Linked DNA regions of Homo sapiens. The protein of the gene in region 2 purifies or fractionates together with the protein of the main gene of each other region. This does not show direct contact. Each region holds a gene or a part of one and is shown on either strand. Other genes may lie near its edges.

The links. Proteins that work in one complex are often made in the same cells at the same time.
Region 1: the proteins of SMS (region 2) and NAA15 fractionate together in Homo sapiens (co-fractionation; one large-scale study listed by BioGRID). This does not show direct contact.

The regions. Positions count from the first base shown.
Region 1 is NC_000004.12:139,304,505-139,308,004, reverse strand, and holds part of NAA15 (N-alpha-acetyltransferase 15, NatA auxiliary subunit), read right to left. Parts: intron 1-3,500. UniProt on the Homo sapiens protein: Auxillary subunit of N-terminal acetyltransferase complexes which display alpha (N-terminal) acetyltransferase (NAT) activity. The NAT activity may be important for vascular, hematopoietic and neuronal growth and development.
Region 2 is NC_000023.11:21,982,209-21,985,708, reverse strand, and holds part of SMS (spermine synthase), read right to left. Parts: intron 1,406-3,500; coding exon 1,291-1,405; intron 566-1,290; coding exon 486-565; intron 1-485. UniProt on the Homo sapiens protein: Catalyzes the production of spermine from spermidine and decarboxylated S-adenosylmethionine (dcSAM).

The sequences.
Region 1 (3,500 bases), on a different chromosome or scaffold from region 2:
GGGCAACAGTGAGACTCCGTCTCAAAAAAATAATAATAATAATAATAATTTACTTATTATACAATGTATACAGCCACCTAATAAGTATTACTACTCCTTTGCCTAACAATTCCCTCACCCTCCTCCTACACCCCTCCCCTAAATAGTTAAACACTAGGCAGGTGTGATGTTAAGTGCCCTGAAAAGAAAAAAAGTTTTATTCCAGACTGTAACTAACACTAGCTGTTGACCTTAATCTCAGTCTGTTTGCTTAATAAAAATGTCCCCACCTTGAAAAGTTTTGAGAATTAAGAAAGGACTCTAAATAAAGCATGCTGTGTCCAAAACGGTAACCATTCACCACATGTGACTATTTGAATTTAAATTAAGATTAATTAAAAATTCATTTCCTCAGTTGCACTAGCCATATTTCAAGTGTGCAATAATTACATGTGGCCAGGCCAGGCACAGTAGCTCACATCTGTAATCCCAGCACTTTGGGAAGCCAAGGCAGGAGGACTGCTTGATCCCAGGAGTTCAAGACTAGCCTGGCCAACATGGCGAAACCCCGTCTCTACCAAAAATACAAAAATTAGCCAGGCGTGGTGGCACGCCTGTAGTCGCAGCTACTCGGGAGACTGAGCTAGGAGGATAGCTTGAGCCCGGGAGGTGGAGGCTGCAGTGAGCCGTGATCAAACCACTGCACTCCAGACTGTGTGATAGAGTTAGACCCTGTCTTAACAAAAACAACAAAAAACAAACCTACACATGGCCAATGGCTATCATATTAGAGCAGATAACAAATATTTCCATCATCACAGAAAATTCTACTGTGCAGTGCTATTCTAAAGCACCTAGAGCAGAGCCTGGCAAATGGTAGATTTCTCATTTTACCTGGCAAATAGTGACAAATCACAAACATAATCATCATGCTATTTTAACTTCTCTCACCACTTTTCTAGGAAAGAAAAATTCTGTCCTTTAACACTTACAACTAACAATTTAAATCATTCAGGCTAAAGTCCAAAACTACATTTATTGATGTACAATATTTTAACTATTCCCAACTTAGATTTTTCTTATAACTGACATTAACATTTGAAGAGCAAAAAAGAGAGAAGGAAGCAGCAGCAACAGCAACCAACCTACCAATACTTGATTGAAAGGCATTAGGATATGTCCATCTTTTCCAAGCAGGTTAAAATCTAAGGTGTGGATTTTGTTCTACTCTGGCAACCTCATTTTTCCTACCCTTAACCTAGATCCTAACAAAGTGGTATAAATATCTGGTAACCTCCTCAAACTTTTAGATAAACAAATAGCATCAACAGTAGGCAAAGGCCACAATTTTCTAATGACTTAATTTTCCAAATAAGTTAAAAGTTTGTAATTACAAACAAAACAAAACAAAACAAAACAAAAAAAAAACCAGACCAAAAAAAAAAAAACCAGCTTCTGGCAAACACAAGTCTTCCTTAAACTCTTACATAGGACCAGGTGCAGTGGCTCATGCCTGTAATCCCAGCACTTTGGGAGGCCGAGGCAGGCAGAACACTTGAGGTCACTAGTTCAAGACCAGCCTGGCCAACATGGTGAAACACCATCTCTACTAAAAATACAAAAAAAAAAATTAGCCGAGTGTGGTGGCAGGCGCCTGTAATCCCAGCTACTTGGGAGGCTGAGGCATGAACCCAGGAGGTGGAGGTTGCAGTGAGCCAAGATCACACCACTGCACTCCAGCCTGGGTGACAGAGCAAAACTGTCTCAAAAAACAAACAAAATAAAATAAACTCTTACATAGTATATGTCACATTAAATTCATCCCATCCTTTTTCTAGACAAATTATCAGCAAGAAACATTATGCAAGCATTTTGACTAACTTAGGACAATGCTTTAGTCAGAAAACAGAAGAGTAATATTGGAAAAAAGAGAAAAATATACAACAAAACTGAATTTTAGAGATCAACTAGACTAGATCAAGCCAGGCAAATCCACTGCAGAAACTCTAAAATTTTTGCAAACTTATGTGTAAAGCAGGTTTCCATTAAAAATTTAAGGAAAAAAATGTTTATTTTGAAATACAAACTAACTGTATTTCCTACTTAAGTTTATCATAACAAGTACAGTACAACTAACAAAGTAGCAGCTCAAAAGTTGAATGCTGCAGGAATGATTTAACAAGTTACCAAGCAGCCAGGAGCAGTGGCTCAGGCCTGTAATCCCAGCATTCTGGGAGGCCAAGGCGGGTGGATCACTTGAGGCTGGGAGTTTGAGACGAGCCTGAACAACATGGAGAAACCCCATCTCTACTAACAATACAAAATTAGCTAGGTGTGGTGGCACACGCCTGTAATCCCAGCTACTCAGGACGCTGAAGCAGAACTGCTTGAACCCGGGAGACAGAGGTTTCGGTGAGCCGAGATCATGCCATTGCCCTCCAGCCTGGGCAACAAAAGCGAAACTCCGTCTCAAAAAAAAAAAAAAACAACAAGTTACCAACCTAGCAACACTTGATTACATAGAGCACACACATCACATTATGTCCAACATTTCCTTTATCAGACCGGGCAAAAAAAAAAAAAATCTTAAAAGCACTAACTTACTATCAAATCTCAAGAAACAGAAGCAATTTCAAAAAATCAATACTATCCTTTTGGTCAGTAACACTTTCTTCATTCCTAATGTATGAGAACAATAAGGACATTTTAGCTCCTTTACTCTTCCTTCATTTAGTGACTTCCACATTTCTCTCACATATAACTTATCAATAGATCTTCAGCACTGTGATTTTGGCAATAAACTTACAGGTTTTTGCCCCACTAACACTACCACAAAAAAATTAAGATGTTTAATCAAAAATTGCTATTATATGGATGGTTAAACACACTGTGGTACATCCATATCATGGAATACTACTTGGCAATAAAAAGGAATAAACTATTAGCTGGATGTAGTAGCCCTGTAGTGATCCCCCCTACTCCGGAGGCTGAAGCGGGAGGACTGCTTGAGTCCAGTAGTTTGAGGTTACAGTGCCCTTTTGATAGAGCCTATAAATAGCCACTACACTCCAGCCTGGGCAACAGAGGAAGACTCTATCTCTAAACCCAAAAGAATGGCAAAATTATACAAATAGAGGACATGTACCGGTTGCTGGAGCCTGCAGCGAGAGGGGATGGGAGGGCGGTGGGAGAGATAATGGATGTGGTTCTAAAAGGGCAACAGAGGGGGGTACTTTGGACTGAAGGAACTTGTTCTGTAGCCTAATTGTAGTGGTGCAATCTATACATGGGATAACGCTGCATAGAAGTAAATACAGTCAGCTCTCATTATCCTTGGTGTCTGCATCCATAGGTAAAAACTATTTTTAAAAATACAATAAAAAATACAAATTTTTAAAATACAGTATAACTATATAACAGTAATATTGCATTAGGTATTATAAGTAATCTAGAGATATTTAAAGTATACATTCGCATAGGTTATATGCAAATACTACACCACTTTACATAAGGGACTCAAA
Region 2 (3,500 bases):
TGTACCAAGAGACTGGATTATCAATTAGCTGTCTTTGCTGTCATTTTCAAAATTTTGTTAAGGATTTCAATAGGAGATATATATGTATATTTTTAACCCCAATTAATGTAATCTTTAAAGTTTAAGTTTAGAATCCCCTAGAGAATGAGAAAAACACCACAATCTGCTTCCATCTGGTGGCAGGAGTTCACAGTACAGCCAGAGCTTTGTCATCAAGTGTATGTTGATGAGGGGAGGGGAAAAAAGAAAATCAGTCTGTGTCTCCATCTGGTGGCAGCAGCTCATACTACAGCGAAAGACCAGGGCTGATAACTCATTAATTCCCAACAGACAACAGGTCAACGTAGAAGCTTACTGTTTGAAAGAACATAATCCGATGATGCCGCTCTATCCTTAATAGATATACATTTCAAAAATGTGCATTCAGATTTCAAAACAGGAAAGTCTTAGAGCGTTTTGAGGGAAAAAACTGTTAAGTAGCCTACCTGTGTAAAATATTTCCCATCCTGTTTCAACACTTTCATTGAGAGGTCAAGAATCAGTCTGAGAAACTCCCATGTGGAATCTGAATGTTTAAAAGAACAAGTTTCATAAATATGGGTTTGTATGTATCCACAACATCTGAAGTAAAATATTCGAATACTCAATACCAAAAGAGGAAAAAGAAAAAGAGCCACGAGTGTAAGACCCACTATTCAAAGAGCTTGTTCATGAACGATAATGAAATTGATTTTGGATGCCAAAATCACATCCACCTAGCACTGCTCGCTCTCAAAATACCAATAGATTTGACACAAAGGCAGTGGCTGAAACGTGAAAGAAAACTGCTTTAAATAAGGGGGCAAGCAGCAAAATCCTGAGAGAAATTCAGAGCCTGCAAACTCAGCAGGAACTTGAGTTTATAGAAAAAAACACGAACTAGCTGTGATTTGGAACAAACATCTGGTTTGAGAAAGGGAATTATCTATGTCGTTGCTTAGATAAGTGACCAGTTTGTACCAATACAGGTTGAAAATCACATAATTTAAATAAATTGTCAAATGATTTACTGTCTCATTAATGTAATGAGTCATTTTACTTCATTTTTGTTTCAAATGACTGAATTAGTTCACTCATTGAGTGGCAGAACAGGAATTGAAGCCAAATCCAGTCATCTTTCCACCATGGACCTCAATTTAACTCCCTTTTTCAAAAACGTGAGAGAACTACACAATCTCTAGGATCCTTTCACCCTCACATGGTGCCAAGAGAAACATTTCCATCATAAATATCTTGGTTAAAAAAATCTACCTTCTTCTGGAGACGTGGAGATTGGAACAGCTGTCAAATCATTAATCACATAATCAAATTCTCTCCCTTCTTTGGCGTACCTCTTCAGTACCGGGATACAGTCTTCTATTAGAACCTTCCAGAAAGAACAGGAATAGATGAGTGAGCCAACATGTGGATGTAGTTAAACAAAAAACAATAGTAAAGGAAGGAGGAAAAAAGCGCCAAGTATGGGCTTATATCCACAGCTATCCACAGCAACTGCTACAGGAACCAAAAAACTTTCATCTATGTCTGTTAACAGCAAAAATTAAGTGCTTACCATATATGCTTTATATGCCTTCTCATTTCAATAAAACAACAATCCTAGAGGCACTATTATCATCCCATTTTACCAATGCAGAAACAAACTTGAGGTGTTATCCAGCTTGCCCATAGATCCACGAAGTATACCTATTACTATCTGAAAGCCAACTTCATACTTTCATCTCTAATCTATACTGCCTCTCCTATCACTATCTGTATCATCTTCTTTTAATTTTTATTTTTTTAATTAATAAACTATTTTTAAAAAGTTTTTCTAGAGACAGGGTCTCACTACGTTGCCCAGGCTGGTCTTGAACTCCTGGGCTCAAGCAATCTGCCCACCTCAGACTCTCATAGTGCTGGGATTAGAGGCATGAGCCACCGTACCCAGCCTAATTTTTCTTTTATACTAAGCACTGAATGACTTCATTGTTTATGGATTCACTTTTGCACCTTACTCAAACTATTAACATGTTATTTCTCAATTTTCTCTAACGCTTGGGCTACTGCTAATAAAGCTATATATAACAGCTCCCACCATCAGAGTCAATAAAGAGACCAGCTGGAATTCCCATACAGATCATATATAGTTAACACAGAAAAGAAGTTTGAGGTTGGCTGTATCTTTGAAGTACTGAGGCTCTATGCTGGGGACACATCTGGATCTAAGCAACATCCTGAACTAAACAGGAGTTACTGTCATCTTTTAGTTTTCTAATTCAAAAAAAAAATACATTAAGTAAAAGAAAAATTAAATATAATAGTCAGAAACCAAGAGTTTAAGAGTTTGCCAGGCTGGGGTCAGTGGCCCAACACCTGTAATCCCAGTACTTTGGGAAGTTGAGGTGGGCGGAACAATGGAGCCCAGGAGTACTAGAGCAGCCTGGGCGACATGGTGAAAGCCCGTCTCTAGAAAAAAAAGAAAAATCAGCTGGGCCTAGTGGTATCTGCCTGTAGTCCCGGCTACTCAGGAAGTTGAGGTGGGAGGATCGCTTGAGCCCGGGAGTTTGAGGCTGTAGTGAGCCATGATCATCGCGCACCACTGTGCTCCAGCCTGAGTGACAGAGCAAGACCTTGACTCAAAAAAAATTAAAAAAAGTTCACCACAATTCCCTAAGATAACCTATCCCATGTTATTTCTCATCATTCTTCTTATAGCCTCACAGTTATAATTTTAAGAAACTGGGACTTTTCTGTCCTATTGTTTTATAACTTGCCTCAATGCATCATACAAGTCCAACTATGGAAAAATATAGGAGGTACTAACACCACCGTTGCTTTCAATCCATGTATTAATCCTGTTTGATATGCTCATATTTTTTCCATACGTTCACACAGATTCTTACGAATACTTGCACACAAACACAAATGTATGTTCTCTTTTGTAAAATTTGAATCCCACACATCATTTGGAACTTGAACATTTCACCCAACATCTCTCCAGGTAATAACACACATTTTAAAAAATACACCATTCCACTAAAAACATTCTTTCTGTTGTCATTGCCAAGCCTTGGTCACTACAAGCACAGCTATAATAAAACCTTGTAGTGACACCTTTTTAACTGTGGGCTGTGTGCTCAAACACCGGCTAGAAGCCGTGTGTTCCGGTTTTGATAGCAATTCACACGCCAACCAGCAATGCATATGAGCACCTGTCTCCCCACAACCTCCCCAGCATGAGATATTGCCCCTCTACTAAATTTTGTGAAGTCTGTTGCTAATGTTTTCACAAGAACTTCCTGGGCCACCAACAGGGTTGACCGTCTTGTGGTACTTTTTTTTTTTTTTTTTTTTGAGACAAGTCTTGCTCTGTCGCCCAGGCTGGAGTGCAGTGATGCGATCTGGGCTCACTGCAAGCTCTGCCTCCCGGGTTCACGCCATTCTCCTGCCTCAGCCTCCCGAGTAGCTGAGACTACAGGTGC